4 linked regions of the Homo sapiens genome follow. The protein of the gene in region 3 purifies or fractionates together with the protein of the main gene of each other region. This does not show direct contact. Each region holds a gene or a part of one and is shown on either strand. Other genes may lie near its edges. The genes, in order: STMN4, STMN2, TRPC5 and SEC24B.

Region 1 (5,782 bases), on a different chromosome or scaffold from region 3:
ATAGGGGATTATTTTCTTTTTGAAAGATAAAGAAAAGTTACACATAGAAGACGGTATCAGAATCAAGCCATGAGAATCCATAGAAGGCATCCCGGGCCTCGAGATGCACTACACCATGATCTTCTCTCCCTCCTCCAACGAAGAAGCTCTTTCCTTAATTCCCTAGCCTTTCCCTAAATCCTTAGTATTTGTCAGTCTTATTTTTGCCACCATGCATATAGGGCCACCTCTTGGAGGAACATAGCAATGTCCTATCCCCCTAACCAAACTGTGAGCTGCAAGAGGCCAAGGGTGTTTAGTTCTTTGTTTCCCTCAATGGTGTCTCATTCTCCACCGCACACTCGGGAGATGCTCCCTAAATATTGCAGATTGGTGATGAGCTTATCCCAGCTCAGGTCCACCACCTGTCTTCTCCACCTCCCTCCCCTTTATGCTGAGAGGGAGGAAAGAAGGAAGGGTCAGCATTTACCTTCCTTCGCTCCTCAGCCGCTTCTAGTTTCTTCTGGATCTCTTCCAGGGATGGGTCTCGCCGCCTTGGCAGGGAGGCGTTGAACTCGGGAACCCCATCAAAGGAGGGTGGCTTCAGGATGACTTCAAAGGATTGGCCCGAGGTGCATTTGTTCAGCTCGATGACTTCCATGTCGGAAATGACGCACCAATTCAGGTCCACCGTGTCTGCTACAGAGGGCAGAGAAGGGGCTGCTCACGTCCTGAAGAATGCACAGGCACCCAGCAAGCATGCGGCGCATGCACACGGGAGTGGGAGAACTGGGGCCCCAAGCAAGCTGGAGACTGGGGTCTGGCTTAGTCCTACACCCTAGTACCTAAGGGCAATGGCCTCTGACGGGGCTGAAGGAGTTTGTAGCAACAGTGAGGCTTCAGCCTGCAAGAATAGGGGGCCCCAGGCAATGTGATTTCCTACGACACTGGCTGCTTTTGCCTTTGCTTCCCCCACCAGCCTCCTCTGACTGCTGAGCTGCTCAATTTGTCGTCCGTGGTGACAGGCAGGGGTGCGTTTCAGCCCCCGCCCACCCCCGGCCACAGCCCATCTGACGCTCGGCCTGCGGAATCCCTCCGCTGCCTCCCTCCTACCCTGAGCTCTTCTTTCTCTCCAGTCAGCACTGTCTTTCCGCTGGCTTTCATCCTTCCTCCTACACTGTCTCCCACACCAGCCTAGACAGAAAAAACAACCTCAGGTCATCCGAGCATGCCTGTTCCTTGGTGCCAGACCAAACCAAACCCATCTCTGCTTCTAACCAGGACATTAGGAGGTGACCTGGTCCCCGAGCACCCCTGGTGAGGACGTGGCCACCCAGTGCTCCCTGCTGGTGTCTTGGGGCTGTCCCGGCTACAGGCCCCACACAGCATGGCTGCCACAGAACCTCCTCTTCCCACCTCTGGACTCTCCCAGAGCATTCTCTACCCTTCCCAGAGGAGACCTGTTGACCTGGAAACTGACTCACATCGTCTCATCTTCTCTTCTGGTCTAGATGTTCCCCACAGGTAGAATATCTGTCTGGCTCACCTTTGCATACCCCCCAGTCTCGATTTGCTGGATGCATGCACAGAGGTGACAAGATCGAGTGCACTCTGGGGGGCGCCTGATGCAGACCTTCATGGCCTCCCCCTAGTGCCCAGGCTGGACCACTGCAGCTCAGACCCTCGGGCTCACCCGCTGTGATTTCATCGGCACTGGGAAGGAAACTGTCTCGGGAGGAGAGATTCACGGGACTGGGGTCGGGGTGCAGGACCTATGAGGACAGGACACAGGGCCCCCCCGCCCCTCACTTTCCTGGCTGAGCCTTCACTGACCTTCATATTTGTAGGACGACTTATTCAGGGGATCGGCCAGGAAGCAGGAGCAGAACAAGGACACCAGCGGGAGCTCCTTCATCTTCTCTTTGTAGGCTGCGGAAACACCCAGTCAGGTGAGGATGGCGCCTCTCCTAGCCTCAGAAGTCAGCGTCCTCACGGGTCTGGGGCTCTGAGCAGCCCAGGGTTCCATAAAGGCACTCAAACCACGCAGGCACACGCCAAGCCTGGGGATCCAGGCCTTTCGCCCTGAGCCGTGCTGTTCAGGATCCCTGTGTGGGATTCGAACCCACTCCTGTCTCCTGTGGAAACCTAAGCCTTCCAGAGCATCAGATCCTTCTCCACAGTATGTCTCCTCCCCTTCCAGACCAGAAAGCAAAATGCCCTCATGGAAAGGTCCCAAGCACCAGTGCCTCAGCTCTCCATCCCCCAACATCTGCCCCAGGACATTCCGATTCTTTTTCTCCAGGACACAGGAGACCCACACTCCATTCTACTCCAAATACCTGGCAGCGCTGGCCTGCAGGGTTAAGGAGCTGGATAGGAGGGGACCGTCCTCACCACCATCCCTCTGGTCTGCCCCTCACAAGGTCAGGCTATAAGCCTTCTCTGACCTTTCCAACACAGTGCACAGAGCCTGGGGGTCGCTGGTGTCCCCAAAAGCTGGAGCATATCCCCGCCACCCTCTAGTCTATCTGTGTTTGGGATGTCAGGGGCCAGAGCTGTCCTGGCTCCTGAAAGTCCCTCTCCTCACCGCCTTGGGGCCCGTGTGTCTGGCTGCTCAGGTTGCAGCCCTTAGCTGACCCCTAGCACAGCGCAGGTGTTGCCCCCATCCTCATTTGCTTGTACAATTTTTTGTTGAGATGAGGGTCTCAATATGTTGCCCAGGCTGGACTCAAACTCCTGGGCTCAAGCGATCCTTGTGCCTCAGACTCCTGATACTGGGGACTATAGGCATATGCCACTATACCTGGCTTCCTTTTACAGATTTGAAAATACGTGTAACTGCAAAAATAATATATAGGCATCATAAAAACTTAAAAAAAAACACACATATACAGATGAGCAAAAGGAAGAAAATCTCAGCTGTGACACACCCCCCACCACTTGTTCAACTTGTCGCCTGTGGTGACAGGCAGTGGTGTGCCTCCCGCCACTGCCTGCATGCCCCCAAGCCTCCCATCACTACCTGCACCCCCCCACACACCCCGTGTGCTTCCTGCCAGCTGTGTTCTTCCCTGCTTCTGTGAGTCCATGTTGGGTGAGGGCAGGGGGAATAGCCTACGCCCCTTAACACATGGTTTTTGTACCTACCAGCAAGGGTCATGTTTCTGGGATCTGGTGGCTGAATCTAGCTGAAAGTTACAGAGTGGGTCTGTCACCAGCTTGGGACGCTGTCACCAACCTGAGAAAAGGGGAGGACAGGATTTTACCATCGATGGATTAGACAGGTTATTCTCATAAGAAAGGTCTTTATACACTGGGGAGGGAATCTCAGGGGTACCTCATTTGCTCTTCCTCCAGGCCCTCTCCCCACCAACTCTCCCTGGGGGTCCCCTACCCCGACCTCCCTCCCACAATGATGCTAAACAAGCTCAGATTCCATGAACTAATGATACTTCATAATTGGCTTTCCAGTCTCAAGCCCCCTAGCACATGCAAGCGTGGGTTTCCCAAAAACGTATGGATCAAGGGGTGCTCATCTGTCTCCCTCCATAGCTCAAGAACCTGGCCCAATTCAAGGGTTAGGGTGAGAAGCAAATCCTCCTGCAGAATCAGCTGGGAGGCATTCATAAAATAACTGTGTGTCCTGGACTTCTCCCCGCACATGCCCCAGAAGTCTTTGGGCCAATTCTGATATGGGAAGAGAGGGAATTGGACATAGGATGTTAACAGGCCTCTTCAGATGCCTCTCACCTTCCCTTTCCCAAGACGACTGACCTAAGCTGTGTTTGACCCTATTTAAGACAATCCGGGACACAGGAAAGAAAAACATTAAGGAATCATGTCGTCATCACAGGGCCAGCCAGCACACCACCAGAAATCAGCGTGAGGAATTGCTGTGGGACACAGAGATAGGGCTCCACACCACCAGAAATCAGCATGAGGAATTGCTGTGGGACACAGAAATAGGGCTCCACACCCCCAGCATTTGCCAGGGAGCCTGGGAGGTGTCCCTGGTGTCGGTAGCACCTGAGCAGTGCCTTGAAGGATGAGTTAGAATCAGACAGGAGCTGGCAGGAGGGCATTGTGCAAGGGAACATCACGGCCAAGGGTCGGGGTGAGAACGCCACTCAGTGTCCGTGGGATCAGGTCAAGCTAGTTGACGCTAGATCAGAAAGTGGAAAGAGGAGGGGGCGGGGCAGGAGACAAAACAGGAGAGTCAGGGAAGGAGCAGATCTGGGAGGATCAGAGGGGTGGAGGTGATGGGAGCCCATGAAGGCTACTACAAAGAGAGTGAGGAGCAGCCAGCAGTGAGTGGCCATCCTCAGGACCATTTGATCCTCGGTCACCCTCTGTGGTCACTGTGCCAGGGGAGGGTGGCGAGAGCCAGCAGGCTCACTGCCTACATCCTTGCCAGCCAAAGAGACTCTGAGACCCACTTCAAACCCCTTGCCTTTCTGTGCTGGCTGGAGACTGGCAGGAGGAGGTAATGGGGCAGTGAACTCAGCTCTGGCTTTAGGGCTAGACCAGTGTGGGGTCAAATACAAGTATCACCTCTCTTACCAGCTCTCGCTAGTCTCTTTCTCCATCTTAATCCTGCACAGAGCTGTACAAATTAAATGAGAAAAACCCATGCATAGCATCCAGCAGACAGGAAGCACTGAATAAATGTTAGTCTCTTTGCCCTGTCTTTTGCATCAGGACAGCTATCAGGTGCCACATGCCTGCTTCAGAGCCATTACCTCTGGACCCACAAGTAAGGACTGTTGTTGCCATGTGCGGATGGGGAAACTGAGGCTCAGAGGGTTTATGTGCCTGCTCAGGGCAATGCAGCTAGCAAGTTAGAGTGCCCATTTGAACCGAGGTCCAGCTGGACTTAAACTGCTTTGTTCTCCTTGTTCTTGTTGTTGTGCTTTGGAGCCAGAGGCCCCTGTCATTGCAGCACAATGGGTCTTCTCTCTGCAGAACTAAGCTGGTCCTGACGGCACCAGTGAGTCCCTGAACAGAGAGGCAGGCCTGGTGCCTGCATGCGACTTCCCTGGTCATGACACCCCATCCCGCAGTCTCTGCTCATGGCCAGGCTGACTGACAAGTCACTGGCAGAGTTAGTAAGCCCTTGCCAGAGTGGCAGTGGCCTTGGACTTCTACCTGGGGAAAGGATCAGAAGTGGAAGCCTGAATAGGTGGAGGGGAGGCAGAGAGGGATGCCTGAGAAAGAAGGCAGATGGAGTAGGAGCAGGCAGTTGGAGTTATGGAATGTGCCTCCAGCCCGAGCTAGAAATGATGATAGGACCCTGTGCTCAGGGGGCACTCGACACCCACCACATTATCCTAGTCTAACTTTGCATGAAGCTGGCTTAGGCTGACAAGACAGGCATCATCAGCTTTGCTTTCAGATGAAGAACCTGGGGTTTGGAGAAGTTCAGACGCTTGCTTAAGGTCACACAGCTCTAAGGGTGCAGAGCTGGGTCTAGTCTCCAGGTCTCTCGACTTGTAAGCTCTTCCATTGTAACCAGTGGAAGAACTAGATACTCACTAATGCTTTCTCTATGGTCCTGAGGACTCACAGAAAGCCAGCCTGGCCTGGGGATATGAGTTAACTTTAAAATATGTGGTAAGTGCTTTCTACATGGAAGGAAATGGGCTAGGAGTTTTAGGAACACAGAGAAGGTCAGAAAGCCAGAAAAGGAAAACCAGGGCAAGAAACGAGATGTTGTAGAGGTGGGCAGAGGTATGCATGGTCATGATCAAGGGATTTGCAATGGAGACCTCTCAGTGTTAAAAATGTGTGCTTACTGAGCAGCTGC
Region 2 (5,782 bases), on a different chromosome or scaffold from region 3:
TACCTCCAAAGATTCTGATTCCAAGGTTCTTTGGTGAGGCCCAGTGATAAGCATCACTAGTGACTCAAATGCAGGTAGTCCAGTCTACCTTTTGTAAGTCATACTGGCATGGGCTTTGATGTCAGGCCTGTGTTCAAGTCTTACCTCTGTTTGTGACCCAGGATGTGTTACGTAACTTCTTTCCATATTCTTTTTATTCTCCCCATTATGCAGCTGAGAAAAGTCCCACCCAATACTGACCTATTTAGGTTTAAGACTAAATTATTACACACTCATGGCTTCTGGATAATTTCTCAGGATCAGCTGATGCCCCGAGGCAATCCTTCACAGGAGTAATTATAAGTGGGAATATCTAAACAATGGTTGATCAAAAAATAATCCTAAGTGCCCTGTTAAATACTGATTACCATTGAAAGCATTAGTGGGAAAACATTTTAGTTGATGGTAGTGGTTGTGGACATTTACTGGAAAGGTCTTTTTGTATAAACAATATGGGGCCTGGAGAAAGGAGAAACTTCTCTTCAAATAAAATTCTACAGAAATGGGAAAGTCAGACAGCCTTACACATCTTTACTGATGTGTTTATTCTCAAGTTGATCAGGAATAGGTCTGTGGCTCACTGGAGATTAGACAGAAAATCCTGGGAACCAGCCCTGCCTCTTGCTTTAACCCCATAATGGTTTCAGGACATTTTACTATTTATGTGTTTATTTTTTTTTAGATAGAGTCTCGCTCTGTCACCCAGGCAGAAGTACAGTGGCGTGATCTCTGCTCACTGTAATCTCTGCCTCTGAGGTTCAAGCGATTCTCATGTCTCAGCTTCCTGAGTAGCTGAGATTACAGGTGTGTGCTACCACACCCTGCTAATTTTTGTATTTTTAGTAGAGATGGGGTTTCGTCATGTTGGCCAGGCTAGTCTTGAACTCCTGGCTTAAGTGATCCACCCGCCTCGGCCTCCCAAAGTACTGGGATTATAGGTGTGAGCCACTGTGCTTGGCTGGTTTTAGGACATTTTTAGTGGAACCAATGCTTTCTTACTTTGTATTGGTTTCAGGAAAACCAATACAAAAATAATAAGAAAATTATAACATAAATTGAGTTCAAACTCCAATGGAGCCTTTCTGGAAGAAATATGAATAAAATATTTTCTAGCTGGTTCACTCTCCTGCCTCTAGGTGGGACTGTTGGTAAAGCATCCTACACAGACTTTGCTTATTTGCTGTTATCAGGACTACGGAATTGTTACAGGGAGAGAGGTGTGTGTGTAAATATTTAAAGTTTCTCTCTCTGGGAAAAGTCTTCATGAAATTAATTTTTTTGGTAATGGATAAGAATAGTACCTATCTCATATGGTTGTCAGGATCAAACAAAATAATGTTTGCAAGGTATTTAATGCAGTGTCTAATATCAAGTAAGTTAGTACTGAATGAGTGGTAATCATTATTATCAAAAGCAAAATTTAAGACACTTGTGACAAGGAGATGATGGCAACTGGACTTACTGGTATAACAACTCAAATGCAAAATTTTGGCAATTTCATGTGTGTGAAGTATTTGTTCAAACTTCTTTGATTATGAACAGTTAGTGGATTCAGGGATCCTGATGGTTGATGAGAGTCCAAGTCCTTCCTAACTCCCTCATCTCCACCTCATGCATGCCCACTGACTTGGGCTGTATTGATAGGAAATCTCACAGTGAAGTGAGCACCACAAAGAAATAAGAGGAGACAGCTTTGCACCTTCATTTTAGAAAATTCAATACATGTAACCTCCAGTCCAGCAAACCTTCTCAAGGAAGAAGGCTGGATTATCACAAAACAAGGGTGCAATGTGTCCAAGAATTAGGAATTGGGTTAGAGCCCTAGGTTTCTCTTGTAATGAACAGAAATCCATGGAGGATGCTCCAGGAGACAAAGTCAAACCAAACAAATCAAAATAAAGCAAAGTAAAACTTCAACATTCTCTAAGTGCCGTGCTTTAAAATCATTTTTCTATCTTAATACACTGTTAGGTAATGCTCTTCTTAGCAACTGGTACCCATCAGCCACAGCTGCTAAAGGCAGGTAGCAATGTAACATTTCTGCTCAGTGGTTAAACAATTCCTTCCTGCTCCTCCTCCCATAGATCAGTGTTTCCAACACTGCCCTAGATAGGATCCACCTGGATTTTTAATGGCCACTTTTTTCAAGTAGCCTTTCTACAGAAGCTCCTGTGGCACAGTGACATGAGCCCCAACCTGGTATTTGGAAAGCCTGGGTTTGCATCCTGCTTTGCTGAGCCTGGCCCTTTGAGATGGACTTCATGGCCAGGGGCCTTGTGCCTGCTGCTCTTCAGACAGGATCAGCTTACAGAGAGTTACTGTGAATTATTATCAAGAGGCCACTGCAACTGCCTAATGTTTCATTTTCAGATGCTCCAATTAAGTTTGGCACTTTGTTCAGTTGTGTTTTAACTTAATGTTTATATTTGTGTTCTTAATTTTCCTTTGTGAAAGAACCAAAGTCAAGAGGAAACAGCAGGGAAATAAGATTCAGACGGGAAGGCTTTGAAATTACAAGGTAATACAGCAACACCACTTTTCCATACTTCTTGCCTTGGTGGGACACATTTGATCTGCATGAACAAACTCCTGTGGTTTCCATTATGAATAATGGAGAATTCCCATTATAACCAATGCCTACTCCATTTACTGGAGTGCAACATTTGGCTCAGTTTGAAATGACTCAATTTAATGGGGTTAGTACTTTTGTTGCTATTGGGGCTAAATGAGATTACACAGCATAGGTGTCAAGTGCATTTCTTTAGCACAATTAATGGGGTGAAACAGAAACAGAAGGCAGTACAGAGTGTGGTCACGTGAGTCTGCTGCTAACTCACAGAGACCTGCCAAACTAGGCCAGGCTGTGCTTCAGGGCTGCTCACTTCTGTGGTACCTTTTCTTACACCCTGGAAGGGAATGTTATATCCACTATTAACTCACACATTTGCAGGACTTAATAATTGTCTGTGTTTCAAATATTTAAAACTTAAGTCCACACATACAAAAATACAGGATGTCAAGTCAATTATGGTGGAAAGCATTCTATCCCAAGGAAATACTTATGACTTCCTATATTAGTCTCTATTCATAAGCATTCAATATTTTTTTTTAAATTTAGAGACAGGGTCTTGCTTTGTTGCTCAGGCTGGAGTATAGTGGTGTGACCTTAGTTTACTATAGCCTCAAATTCCTGGGCTCAAGAGATCCTCTTGCCTCAGCCTCCTGCACAGCTGGGACTACAGGCGTGCAACACGACACCTGTCCAGCAGTCAATTTTTGAACAAATTATTCAGGGGCGCTAATAACCAGGGGGGCATCTACCTCAGTTCCTGAGGTCTCTGCTACCCCATTGGGGTAGAAAGGCATAACCTCGCTTCCTTTTTCACAGTGTAGCATCCAGATAGATATTGCTGCCCATAACTCCTCTAACTCATTTCTTAGGTAGAAATTGATTCTCACATGAACATAGTTTAATCTTCTAGTCAGACCCTCAAGGAAAAAAATTGGCTCTAATTCCAATGAGCAAATAGGCAGTTTAATCAATGAGAAAATAAGCAGTTAGTCCAGAAAACTGCACTAAAACATGACATGAAGTGAGTGAGGCTGTAGAATAAAAAACATGTGACATACAAAAGTGGCAGCATTTTCCTTCATTTTTGGCAGAGAAGTAAAGTTCTCACTACATGTTCAAATAGGTATTCTTACTTTATATCTTGACTGTGCAGATTAGCAGAAAGGAATTGTGATTGCGTGGACTTATGAAACGGAGGGTGGTGAAGTGAGAAAATCGCTAAAAGTTGTTAAAAATAAATTGTTCAAGGAAAAAGTATCTGGCCTTGGAGGAACACTTCTAAATAACCTGTACCTAACATAGAAGGTCACTAAAATATTAAAAGGGAAAATTAGGGCAAGACAATGATCAGCTGATATAATGCAAATGTCAAGGCAAAATATAGAACTGAGATGTTCAACGTGACGTTCCGGGAGACTAAAGAACCTTCTCGATCTTGCTATTATGGGAACTGAGGCACGTTATTGGTGAGCACCTTTTCTAGGCATAAACCTCCTCACACTGAACTCAATCATTGAAATAATTACATGAGAGGTACGTGAAGCGAAAAACAATGAGACAGGAAAGGAGACTTATTGTACATTTAGGAACACTTTAACATTTTGCAAAGAGGTTAATTACCAATTTGTATATTACTGAGTGTAAGAGTTTAATTACTATACAAATGGAGTGGAAGATAAATTTGAGTAACTAGTACATAAAACTCATTTTACTTTATGTACACAGATGAGACTTAAGACTACATTTTAGATAGCACTAATTTTCCATTTATTTCTGAAGTAAACATATTTATTTTCTTGTCACTTTTCATTATTTGGGGGATATATTACTTGCTATCCAGGACCGTTGATCAGACACTAAATCTCCTAGTACCAAAAAATGCTTTTACACAAGTAGGGTAGGTGATGTGTCTGTAATTATTGACTTTACTGCTGACAATGAAAATCATTATTGACCCATCTAAAGTCACAAATAATGTCCTGTTGAAATATGACAATTGAATATAATTATGTAAAACCAAAGAGTACAATATTCACTTTGTGTTGAAGAGCCTGAAGCATAACAGGAAATTTAAAATGATTAAAATCCTAAGACCTTTAGAATGAGCCCTTCTGCTAAAGTGTGTAATGGGTTTACTGTGGTTAGCTCCTAGGAAAAGAAACTTGGGGGTGCTCTTCTTCACCGAGAAGGTAGCACACGGAAGATTCTGTGGCCCACGTGCCATATTCTGTAAGGAGCAGAATGTTTCCTGAATGTCAAGCGGTGAATAATCCAGTACTTTGTTTCATAATCCATTGCTATACAAACCACCCCCTCTTTCCCTGGATTCCATTTTAATTGCCATCTACAATGTGAGATGCCAACAAATGGAAAAGGTAAGTCTATCATGTTTGGTGACTAATGATCTACTTTTATGCCATTTTATTAAGAATAAGCAACACATCTTCCTTTCAGAGGCTTAGTGACTTTGAAGCTGATTATGCCAGTAATGAGAGCATGCTAATGAAATCTCACTGAACTGGTTCAAGTAGGGTGATTTTTAATTTAATCTCTTTTAGGGTGAGATTTTATCAATGTCATTAAAATCCTTTTGTTTTCACAATATTAATTTTTTCAGGACACTTTTAGTTGGCCTGACCTATTTATATATCTATTACCTATCAAACTGTCTTTTCTTCTATGCAATTTGATAAAGAATATTTTATAATATTTAAAAATATTGGCCGGGCATGGTGGCTCATGCCTGTAATGCCAGCACTTCGGAAGGCTGAGGTGGGTGGATCACCTGAGGTCAGGAGTTTGAGACCAGTCTGGCCAACATGACAAAACCTTGTCTCTACTAAAAATATAAAAATTAGCTGGGTGTGGTGGTGGGTGCCTATAATCCCAGCTACTTGGGAGACTGAGGCAGGAGAATTGCTTGAACCTGGGAGGTGGAGGTTGCAATTAGCCAAGGTGGCAACACTGCACTCCAGCCTGAGCCTGAGTGGCAGAGCGAGACTCCGTCTCAAAAAAAAAAAAAAAAAAAAAGCAACGTATATTGTATGGTAGCATTTCAGTCTCTGTTGATGAGAAACTTCTTTTCTTTATAAAATCATGAGTTTGCTAGATAATCTCTGTGAGGTCAGAAACTGGATGCTTCTTCACATAGTAATTGCTAACCCTTTTACC
Region 3 (6,548 bases):
TTTTGGTGGATGTGTAGTAAGTGGTATCTCATTGTAGTAAGTGGTATCTAATTTGCATTTCCCTGATTGTTTTTCATATCAAGCATTTTTATGTGCTTGTTCATTTGTATACCTTTGTGAAGTGTGTTCAAATAATTTGTGTTATTGCATTATAGGAGTTCTTTGTATATGCTGGTTGCAAATCTTTGTCAGATATACTTCTGTTTTTTTTTTTATTATTATACTTTAAGTTCTAGGGTACATGTGCACAACATGCAGGCTTATTACATACGTATACGTGTGCCATGTTGGTGTGCTGCACCCATTAACTCGTCATTTACATTAGGTATATCTCCTAATGCTATCCCTCCCCCCACCCCCACCCCATGACAGGCCCCAGTGTGTGATGTTCCCCTTCCTGTGTCCATGTGTTCTCATTGTTCAATTCCCACCTATGAGTGAGAACATGCGGTATTTGGTTTTTTGTCCTTGTGATAGTTTGCTGAGAATGATGGTTTCCAGCTTCATCCGTGTCCCTACAAAGGACATGAACTCATCATTTTTTATGGCTGCATAGTATTCCATGGTGTATATGTGCCACATTTTCTTAATCCAGTCTATCATTGATGGACATTTGGGTTGGTTCCAAGTCTTTGCTATTGTGAATAGTGCCACAATAAACATACGTGTGCATGTGTCTTTATAGCAGCATGATTTATAATCCTTTGGGTATATACCCAGTAATGGGATGGCTGGGTCAAATGGTATTTCTAGTTCTAGATCCTTGAGGAATCGCCACACTGTCTTCCACAATGGTTAAACTAGTTTACAGTCCCACCAACAGTGTAAAAGTGCTCCTATTTCTCCAGCACCTGTTGTTTCCTGACTTTTTAATGATTGCCATTCTAACTGGTGTGAGATGTTATCTCATTTGTGACTTCTGCTTATTTTAATTATGCTTATCTAACCAGTGTGTAAATGTTGTACACTCATTTATGCTTAAAATAATTAGGCCAGGACTTACAGGTGAGTTATTTAGCTGAAAGTTAAGCTTTTCTGATATGCTAACCAGTGCCCTGCTGGTGTAAAAGTTAATCAGTAAAATAAGACAATCAAACTTCAGGAATCTGAATTAGTAGAAAGCTAGTTGCTGAAAAGTCTGTTACTACAAAAAAAGCTGAAGGAGAAACGTCAACTGATTCTGGAATTATTGCTCAGATGTCCTCAGATGACACTGGTTTAATCATGACCAGCTTAACCTCCATTTATATGTCTTCTCACTGTCTCACAGATTCCAACTGTTCTATGCAATATGTATCATACTTTTAAGTACTCAATGAAGAATAATTAATTTCCAGGATTGGGCCTCTAAGGTTTTTCAATGTTGTAAGCTATAGCTTTAAAACTGTATTGGTCTCTTTACTTCATCTCATAGTTCTTATAAATTATTATTAAATTCTTAAATACTAGTCAGCTTTGTTTAATGGAAGATATAAAAATCAGAATATTTATTCTCATATACTTTTCAAAATATATTGGACTGTGGAGGTCTCCCATTAGTGTTTCTGCTAGGCAAATTACATTGTGAAGTCTTTTGTTCATAAATGTTAATAATAGGTGGCTACGAATGATTACACTGAAAAAGGGAGGAACATAACACCTTAAAATCTGAGTTGTCACACATTTCAGGGGAAAAAAGTAAATACTTTATTTTGTTGATACTGAAGCTAAAAATACACAAAATTATTTTATTGTACAAGATTCTTTTTAATACATTAAGATTGACACTGTGCACTTACAGAAAGTGTTTAAATAAAAGTGATAGTTATTCAAAGAGATTTCCACTTTGAAAATAGTCTTCAAAGCCAGTGTCATTTACACAGACACATTTGGAATTTTCCCTTTTCATGATTATGCTCAAGATGTATCATTTTAAACTGAAATTTGACACACTTTCTATATGGTGATATGTGGTTGGGGCTGCCAACTAGGCTTAGAAGGTGAATTACACATAGCTCGTATTCTCTAGTATTCTCCTTCCTGCTACCAAATGTTAGTTTGTAGCTGCAGACTGCATTCATTGTTTTGAGTAGAAAGAAACTCCCATCCCTAATTTCAACCCCATTTTTGAGAAATATGGAATAAATAGAATCCTGTGAAGAGTTTAACTATTGTTCTGTTGAATAGTACCTCTGGTGTGCATTCCTATTATAAGAAACAAACTAAAATGTATTTGCTTGAGAAGGATGTGTTTATCCTTATCTGAAGTGTCCTGGGGAAGGTCTGTGTCTTTACTGTTGAGATAAGATACAGCTTTACTTTTACTTTGTTAAGGTAGTAATTTGAACACTTAATTTTAAAGTTAATTTATCGAATTGAATTTCCTTTTACATTAAACCACAGACTAATGTGTTAACCCTTTGGGTTTAGAGGACTCTTCATGTGCTCACATAATATTCATTTTGGTGTCATTGGTCCCACTTATCCTGTTAAGACACTTGAGAATTCTGGCTGCTTCTCCTGCCCACGTACACTAAGCACAGTTATCACTGATTTATTGGACTACAGGTTACTTTGCCTTGGATATTTAAACTGATTGCTTAATATGTTTTACAAGGAGGTCCTACAAGGTGTGGCCACAACATGATGAGGCTATACTTTAAATACCATGACTAGATCTTATACAGGAAATACTTAATCTGAATATGTGACTTTCAAATGACCTGAACACATTCAGCTAGCTAGCTGCCATCTTCCTATTAGAGTTTCTTTCCATTGCTTCTGCCACCGTGGGTTCTTATGAGTCCAAAATCCTCCCCTCTGTTCTCTATGGAGGTTAGTGGTTTTTCTTTACTGTCCCTCTCCCTGATAACAGCCTAGTCACCAGAGCCTCTGTGCTATACAATGTCATTTCTTAAGGATCAAATAAGTTTGAGGAGTCAATTCTGAGTTTATTTACAGCATAAGCCATTGGAACTCAATGTATTTTACTGTTTAAACACAAAGGGTTAATCATTATGGTTGTTCCCAAATCAGTGAAGCTTCTCTATCTAAATATATTGCTCTTTAAAGTGTTCTCTTCAGGAGGCTATGTGCTTATTCATGTAAGGCTACCACTGCTCCAAGCATAATTGAAACTAGATTCCAGGATACAAAGGAGAACAAGCATTCTTGAGGGGGTGATGGAGATATTCTATAACTTGATTTTGGCTGGTGCTTCCAGGGGTATATACAACTCTGAAAACTCACCAATTTGTACACTTTAAATGAATGCAGGTAATTGTACATAAATCATTCCTCAATAAAGTTAATTAGGGGAAAAAAACTAGATTCCCAAGAACAGTTCCAGGTCCCTTACAAATCCCACAAGAGACAATCTCATTATTTTATAATTGCACCTATCAAAGTGCCTATTGTGTAGTAGCACTTGAAAATGTTTTTTGTTTGTTCGTTTGTTTGTTTTTAACCAGAGAAAGTGGTACTCATCTTGACTACCACATGTTTTACCAAGTGTGGATCTAAAATTACTTTTGGCAATTTCTAAATTCCTAAAAATTTAATCTTATAGGATCATGATTTTCTACCATTGAGGATATTCAGAGATTGTACTGTGGACTTTGAAAGTCATTTCAAAAGCAGAAGTCCAAAGTGGGTAGAGTAATGGCAGCATCATTAGAATATGGGTATGGCTTTTTAAGGTGACTACTTTAAAGGACCACGTTCATTTGGGTGCATAAGTTCTGGTATGTTTATGAAAATATCAGTCATTATCCTATTTTATGTTTATTCCAAATTTATGAGGCTAAAAGATGACAGCAGATACATAATCTGGCTTTTTGCCATAGTGCCCTTCCTTACCTTTCATTTCTCTTTCATGTTGTTTTGACAAACCCACTTTATTTCTTAGATAAAATTTGAAGGAAGTGATCTTTCCAATTGGCTAAAGTGTACATATTTATGAAAGCCCATCTGTGATATTGCATTATGGGTGTGGTGTGTTGAACTTATATTTACAGTGATCCCAAGGTTGAGAACTTGTTAACATCTGAAATTTAACCCAAATATGACCCAAAATTTGAAAAATGATTTACCGGTAGTTCTGCTTTCATATATTGTTGCATTTTTTGAATTTCATTAAAGGAGAAATGATGATGCTAATGTTTTAATTAACCATTTTAAATTATATTTTTAATTCAGGTTATTCATCTCAATTTGGCCATCCAAAAAACTGACAATTTGGTGGTTTAGCCCCGTGTTTTAAAGTGTATATCCTCACTCATCCTTACTTCAAAAGCTTTTCCAACTGTCTCTTTACTACACTATCACCATCTAAGTTTCCCAATCCCAGCAAAAATCCAAAGCCTCCTTTCTTCCTTCCAAGGGTCAGCTTTAAGAGTTGTGTAAGAGCGGAGAACTGTCAAGAGGGTTCCTAGGTTGGAAGGCAATTGGTGGCAATGAGTATTTTGGGGATATATTGAACTTCTGGGAAAAGATACAAAATGGCCAATCCCAGCTTAATTGTACTTTCAAATGGCTGGCTACCTTAGGCTTAAATAAAAGGCACACTGCCACATATTCATTCAAGTGCCACTAAGGACAGTGCCTTTTGTGTGTATGTATGTAAGCTCCTGGGATGTTAGGTTGCCCCAAAACCTGCTAAAGTCAAAGGGCAAATATGCTGAAAAATGGTGAAAATGACCTTCACGTTGCAAGTCATTCTAACCTACTTCAGTTAGTCTTTTTTGGTTCTATCAAGTCACTGGAGTTATAAAGAAAGTTCTTTGAGGGGGAGGAGGGTAGGACAGATACATGCTACTTTCAGGGATGTATGACAGTTGATTTCAATGATCAAAAGTTGTGGGCTGTTTATGTTCCTACAGAAATTGTTTGTCATTTATTTGTGTAGTAACAGGAAGCCTCTAGAGCTTTCACATCTTTTCACATCATATAAGAAAACTAGCTTTTTGGCATAAGGGCATTCCACTTAGTTTTATGTTTAAATATTATAATTCTTAATATGTATATGTCTCTCAGGTACCACAAACATTGATGGTATATCTTTAGAAAAAGAATGAACACAACTCAGATCCAGTAATCAAGTACAAGATACAAATCCACTCAAGTTGGGGATAACACAAATACTGAGCCTAAAGATGCTAGAGCACACTGGCTTGCTGCCTCTATCATTCCAGCAGTTAACTCTGTTTCTTAAACATTACATTTTCTAAAAGTAAAGCTCTCACAAAGCACCCACTAACACCTCCTCTGGATCACCACACAAAAGATGAAAATCCTAGGCCACGTACCAGCATATGAATGAATATTAACACCTCAAGTATGCACCAAATCTCAGGTATACAGTAAATCTGAAGTATGCAGACTGACTTTATTTTGCCAAAAATGTGTATATTTAAGTCTTCCAGGTAAGTTATTCTGACCTAAATGCTTTTTTTTTTTTTAAACAAAACCAGGAACCTCAAATCTTGATAGCTCTCAATATAAAAGTGCTACAGAAGATGCTGTCATGGCAGTTCATTTTGGCAATTCCTCACAGCTCAGGAAATGTCTCATTGAAAAGTTATTCTTGCTTCCCTCTCTTCAAAATGATCTAGTAATTACCTAAAGGGATAAAGGGCCAAGGGCAGAACCATCAAATGCTGTTAAGTTTTGTTATGTGTGTCTATGTATATACACAGACACGTTCTCACTTTTACAGACATCCCTCAAAAGGCAAAGCAAGCCAAAACCCACATCTGTTGGAAAAAAAGTTACTGGAAGGTTCATTGGAAATATAATGGTAACAATGTTTCTCTCTGCTGAAGTAAAGCTCACATTCATTTGGGGTACTCAGATCCCACTGCCGAGTCCTACACCAACAAGGTGGATATTTGGAGCAATTATCTAGATAAAGTAAGCCAAAGAAACAATCTAAAATATCCTTAGTTTTGAGGCAAAGCTGCAGGGATTGAAGGTAGGGCTGTGAAGTAGGTATGAAGAGGTTATTTAAATGATCTGAACACTTGGATCAATTTGCATTGACTATGTCTATATGAGCAATCTTTTGAAAACTTGATTACCAAGAAAATATACTCAATTTTTCTTAGGTACCTTTATTTATTTATTTTTGAGACAGTCTCGCTCTGCCGCCCAGGCTTGAGTGCAGTGGTGTGATCTCAGTGCACTGCAACCTCTGCCTCCCAGGTTCAAGTGATTCTCATGCCTCAGCCTCTCAAGTAGTTGGACTACAGGCGTGTACCACCATGCCCAGCTAATTTTTGTATTTTTAGTAGAGATGGGTTTCACCATGTTGGCCAGGCTGATCTCAAACTCCTGGACTCAAGTGAACCACCCATTTTGGCCTCCCAAAGTGCTGGGATTACAGGAGTGGGCCACCATGCCCAGCCTCAATTTTTCTAAGGTACTTTTAAACAAAGGATTTGCTGCCTATCTTCAAGTACTTTTTACCTGATGATTTAACAAACCAAGGTCTGGGGCACTAAAACTATTAGTCAAAACACCACACGAGATTCACCCATGATGTAACATGAATGCCAATGGTCATTTGTATT
Region 4 (5,782 bases), on a different chromosome or scaffold from region 3:
TTTAAGTGCTATGTTAATTCTCAAAAGGATTTTTTTAGACTTACATATAATTAGTTTAAGTACAGTTCTATAGTGGTTATGTGTCAAATGCATAGCCATGTAATCTCTACCACAATCAGGATACACAATAGTTCCATCACTACAAAATTATCCCCCTATACTTGCCCCTTTGCAGTAAAACCCTCCCTCAGTCTCAATCCCAATTAGTCACCATTTGATAATTTTCCCTTTCCCTGAATGTCATTTATATAGAATCATTTGTATGTAGCTTTTTTTTTTTTTTTTTGAGATGCAGTCTCACGCTGTCACTCAGGCAGGAGTACAGTGGCGAGACCTCGGCTCGGCTCACTGCAACCTCTGCCTCCTGGGTTCAAAGGATTTTCCTGCCTCAACCTCCCAAGTAGTTGGGATTACAGGGGTGCAGCACCACGCCCAGCTAATTTTTTTCTTGTATTTTTAGTAGAGACAGGGTTTCACCATGTTGGCCAGGCTGGTCTTGAACTCCTCACCTCAAGTGATCCGCCCACTTCAGCTTCCCAAAGTGTTGGGAATGAGCCCACCTGGAATGAGCTCATTACAGGCATGAGCCACCACACCTGGCCTATGCAGCTTTTTGAGTCTAGCTTCTTTTATTCAGCACAATGTCTTTGAGAGGCATCCATGTTTGTTTAAGTATTGACAGTTCATTCCTTTTTATTGCTGCATTATATTCTATTGTATGAGTGTACCATGGATTGTGCATATATTATTTGAAGGACATTTCAGTTTTTACCACATTTTTAGAGATTATGAATTCCCTCAAAGATTTTGAAAGTAAGATTAAGGAAGAAATGTGAGGACAGTCTGATTCACAATGCAGTAAATAAAAATGTAAAACATATGCTTTTTAAATAAGAGAAAATCCTAGCTTCAGTTTCTTTCTTTCTTTTTTTTTTTGAGACAGAGTCTCACTCTGTTGCCCAAGCTGGAGTGGAGTGATTGGAGTGATGCGGTCTCGGCTCACTGCAACGTCCGCCTCTCAGGTTCAAGCAATTCTCCTGTCTCAGTCTCCTGAGAAGCTGCGATTACAGGCGCCTGCCACCACGCTCGGCTATTTTTTCGTATTTTTAGTAGAGATGGGGTTTCACCATGTTGGCCAGCCTGGTCTCAAACTCCTGACCTCGTGGTCCGTCCGCCTCAGCCTCCCAAAATGCTGGGATTACAGGCGGACGCACTGCCACCAGCCAAGCTTCAGTTTTTAAGATAGAAAAATACATTTCACATGTTCCTTCAATTTTTACTCACCCATGTTTGCCAGAAGGCAGATGGCAGCTTGTACATCCACTCCCGCATATACATCTGCTAGTGAACTTACCACTGGCAAACAAAGTGTATGTACTCTAATTCTCCGCTCACCTAAAAAAAAAGTCATTGAAAATACATTAGATCAAAAAGGAAATAAAGCAAAGCAAACATGTCAAATACTTTTTTTCTTTCTTTCTTTCTTTTTTTTTTTTTTGAGACGGAGTCTTGCTCTGTCTCTTAGGCTGGAGTGCAATGGTGTGATCACAGCTCACTGCAACTTCTGTCTCCTAGGTTCAAGTGATTCTCCTGCCTCAGCCTCCCAAGTAGCTGGGATTACAGGTGCCTGCCACCATACCCAGCTAATTTTTGTATTTTTAGTAGAGATGGGGTTTCACCAGGTTGGCCAGGCTGGTCTGGAACTCCTGACCTCAGGTGATCCACCCACCTCGGCCTCCCAAAGTGCTGGGATTACAGGCGTGAGCCACCGCCACATCCAGCCACAAGTCGAATTTTTATTCAAGTTATTGTTTTGGCTAGATTACATCACCAACAGGATTTTGAGATGTAAAAACCAAGTTTTACAATGAACATTTTTAAAAGAAAATTAAACACTCTCCAAATCTGCAGAGTATGAACATACGCTATATCACTCATTCTAAATTATATCCTATAGAGTAAAATACCAGAAAACTTAACTGTCAAGTAACAAATGAAGGCCTTAATTGCTAAGCAGTTTTTTACTTTTTGGGGCAAGAAATAATACAAAGAATGGCATAGCTGGATTTAGCATGAACTGTTTTGAAACAAGATTCTAAGAATACAAGTCTTCCATAAATTAAAAAAGTGTGCTATTTAAAGATGCAAAAGTGAGAGTTAAAAAAAGAAAGAAAATAACAACATATGTTTGATTAACTAATACAAATTCCATTACTTCCCACTGTGTATTCATTCTTTTTCCCCACTCCACTAAAGGCCATGTGAAAGGAGGGAGGAATTACTGCTGCAGACTATATTTCATTTCTGTTAACATTACCTTTGCTTGATGTATATAATAGGGCTGTTTGAAAACATACTAAGGAAGTATCTGTTAAACTTTCTTCAATTGACAACTGCACCGCAAATCCAGCATCAGGATTGATGTTGGCAAGGGATAACAAATCAGTAGAACGGACAAAGAAGTTACCGTGAAAAGTGTGCATTGAAAGACCTAAAAAGGAGAAAATCATAAAAAATCAAGTTAACAATAGTATCTTCACCTCAAGCTAAAGTTACTTTTTTAAGTCAAAGATGTTTATGATTTTGAATCAAAAGGATAACTGGGGAGTCAAGGTTCAAGCATAGGCAGAGTTTCTAAAATATTAATTCAAAAAAACTAGTGGACGTTATATAAAAGGGAGACTATACATTTCACTTGTATTGACACCTAACCTTATTTACATTTTCTCACATGTGACTTGAAGTCAGACATAATCTGACTAAACATTTAATTTACAAAATTAAGCAAATGAGGGTTATTATATAACTCATCCTAGATTTAAAATAAAGGTAAAATAAAGGATTAAAACAAATATTCACATAAAACCAAGGAAGTGTACATTAAATGATTATGAAGGCAAAGACCCTTACTTTGACAATTCTTATTTAAGATCTTCCCTATTCCTCTAATTCTCCTTCTAAAATCATTTCTAATATAGGCTTTCTCTTAGGTTCTTCTGAGTAAATCAAACATTACTTTTGTCTACTTATTCAAGTTATTTTTAAAAATTGGGCAAGGATTATTCAATAACTATTATCTATTTAAAACATGGTATAGCTAATGAGATCAAACAGTCTTCCATCATGAACAGTCAGAGGTAGTCAATACATGGAATGCTCACTGACTTTGATACAAGTATTTAATATAAAATATAACTTTTACAACTTCATACCTTTAGTACACCTTATTCTCATAACAGCTTCAAACCCAATTTTTCTTGTGAGATACCGTTTTAGGTCTTTTTGTAACTTTTCTGCTTGTGAAGGATTGTGAGTATAGTGGAATGATGGATAATAATAGATGCACCCTGCAGAATACTTGGACATGCAAGCTTTAGAGAGAAATACAAAAAGTATTAGCTATAGAAATAATAATATTTTACTTGTCCAACAGTAGTACAGATTCTACATTATGAAGAAATCTAAGTCATGAGAAAACCTAAGCCATCAAAATAAGAACATACAAATCTGAGAAAACAGTAATATCTATAAAATATATGATAAAGTTTACTGTTGAGCAGAATGGTAAGGGAATCATGCTATCTAAACAAAATACAAGTGACATTTTATATTTGTATAGTGCTTTAAACTTTACTGGTAGTTTTCATAGATATTGTCTATCTAATGCACATGCTTTTCTCCCTAAAATATAGAGAATGCTTACTGAAGAGTTTAGATTTAATTATGCATTAAAAATGTTCATTTAAACAAATGTACCCATGATGACTTTCCTTACCTAGAGAAGCAAGATCAGAATACTGTGAACTTAAAAGGAACAAATCCACTGCAGTTTGCTGTCCCGAGCAATCTAATGCAAGTTTCTTATAAAAATCAGTTGCAGGGCCAAGATGTTGTACCACCTAAGTCAACAGATCATATAGTAAGAGCTAGCAATCTTTATGCTCATATTTTCATGTCATTTTTATAACAAAAAGGATATCCTCTGCCTCCCTACCAAACTAAGAGTTTTCTAAATGTCTAGGCATTTGGTGCAGATTCCCTATGATAATAATAATGATAGATAATCTTTATAAAAAACACTTATGTGCCAGCACTGTTTCACACAAATTAATTTTCATAACACATCTCATATGGTTTTTATCATCTACATTTTCAGACGAAGAAACTGAGGCAATAACTGATTAAGTAACTTGACCAAGATTACATAGATATTGAGAAGTGGATATTGGAATATCAACCCAAGAAATCTGGCTGCAGAATGAGTGCTGTTAACCATTATTAAATATTGTTAAATAACTTAAGAGAGTAAAAGATTAAGGAAGGTGTTTCTTTTGGTATGAGAAGACTTGAGCTGAGAAGGTGACACTGGAGAGAGTCTCCAAGTTCTTAATCATCATACAACATTTCCTAAAAAAAAGTTTCAATCCTCTTAATTACACTGTATGATGATTATATTAGAGCTTACTCTAATATAAGGAATTAAGGATATGAAGGAATATGTAAACCAGAACAGATACTGAAACTTTAGAGTCCTAGGCAGACAGATAGAGAATATTTTTGAAAGTTAAATGAGAAAACAAAACAAATCAAAACAAAGCTCTATCAAAGGATTCAGTAAATATATATCAGCTTCCTGTGTTCAAAACACCACAGTAATTTATAATGGATTGTAATGGGTCAACGAACTAAATGCCAGCTACACTTGTTGATGAGTTTAAAATACATACTTATTTTAAAATTAGCTTCCTTCTCAAATGCAATTTTAAAATACAATTTCTATAAAGGGTGAAATATGGTGCCTTTTTTTCTCTAGCATATTGGTGAAGAATAAAAAAAGCAATGCTACTTAATGGTGGTTACAGGATGAGAGTCCTTAAGAAGAGAAGTTGATTAAAAAACCCAAATAAACAAAACATTCTTTATTTAATAACTTAAAGATTATGCCCTTTAACCCAATAATTTCACTTCTAGGAATTTATCCTAAGGCAAATCTGGATATGTGGCTAAAGATTTATGACACTATTAAAACTGTTTAATTCATACTCATAACTACTTATAATGATATTTTCTCAAATATGTTAAGGCCAGACAGAACTTGTACAAAAGAAAAATGAATATTTTTGTTCATTTATTATTTGAAATAGGGCTTAAAAATGCCTGACCAAATCTTCACATAAAACCCAAGTAATGTTCAGCTTCGTATATTCCTTTCATTGTTATTATTATTATTGTTTTTCTTTTTTTTTGAGACCGGGTCTCGCTCTGTTGCCCAGGCTGGAGTGCAGTGGCAGTGATCACAGCTCGCTGCAAACTCTGCCTCCCTGGTTCAAGTGATTCTCCTGCCTCAGCCATCTGAGTAGCTGGGATTACAGGCTTGCATCACCGCACCCAGCTAATTTTTGTATTTTTAGGAGAGATGGGGTTTTGCAATGTTGGCCAGACTGGTCTCAAACTCCTGAACTCAAGTGATCCACCCACCTTTGCCTCCCAAAGTGCCGGGATTATAGGTGTGAGCCACTGCACCCGGCCATTATTGTTATTTTTTAAGATAGGGTCTCGTTACATTGCCCAAGCTGGTTTAGAACTCCTAAGCTCAAATGATCCTCTAGCCTCAGCCTCTTGAGTAGCTAAGGTAACAGGCAGGTGCTACCACACCCAGCCCTTTTTTAAAAAAAAAATAGTGCAAATACAGGTCTGGCTCACATCTGCAATCCCAGCACTTTGCAGGGCTGAGGTAGGGGTATTGCTTGATCTCGGCAGTTTGAGGCCAGCCTGGGCAACA

What was found.
Region 1: the proteins of TRPC5 (region 3) and STMN4 purify together in Homo sapiens (affinity purification with western blotting, with the first as the bait; one study listed by BioGRID). This does not show direct contact.
Region 2: the proteins of TRPC5 (region 3) and STMN2 purify together in Homo sapiens (affinity purification with western blotting, with the first as the bait; one study listed by BioGRID). This does not show direct contact.
Region 4: the proteins of TRPC5 (region 3) and SEC24B purify together in Homo sapiens (affinity purification with mass spectrometry; one large-scale study listed by BioGRID and IntAct). This does not show direct contact.

The regions. Positions count from the first base shown.
Region 1 is NC_000008.11:27,240,585-27,246,366, forward strand, and holds part of STMN4 (stathmin-4), read right to left. Parts: intron 4,142-5,782; exon of another isoform or gene 4,006-4,141; intron 3,218-4,005; 5' UTR 3,140-3,217; coding exon 3,127-3,139; intron 1,909-3,126; coding exon 1,813-1,908; intron 1,174-1,812; coding exon 1,093-1,173; intron 679-1,092; coding exon 470-678; intron 1-469. UniProt on the Homo sapiens protein: Exhibits microtubule-destabilizing activity.
Region 2 is NC_000008.11:79,648,313-79,654,094, reverse strand, and holds part of STMN2 (stathmin-2), read right to left. Parts: intron 1-5,782. UniProt on the Homo sapiens protein: Regulator of microtubule stability. When phosphorylated by MAPK8, stabilizes microtubules and consequently controls neurite length in cortical neurons.
Region 3 is NC_000023.11:111,766,349-111,772,896, forward strand, and holds the end of TRPC5 (short transient receptor potential channel 5), read right to left. Parts: 3' UTR 1,663-6,548; downstream 1-1,662. UniProt on the Homo sapiens protein: Forms a receptor-activated non-selective calcium permeant cation channel. Mediates calcium-dependent phosphatidylserine externalization and apoptosis in neurons via its association with PLSCR1.
Region 4 is NC_000004.12:109,522,935-109,528,716, reverse strand, and holds part of SEC24B (protein transport protein Sec24B), read right to left. Parts: intron 3,900-5,782; coding exon 3,776-3,899; intron 3,372-3,775; coding exon 3,213-3,371; intron 2,492-3,212; coding exon 2,318-2,491; intron 1,396-2,317; coding exon 1,285-1,395; intron 1-1,284. UniProt on the Homo sapiens protein: Component of the coat protein complex II (COPII) which promotes the formation of transport vesicles from the endoplasmic reticulum (ER).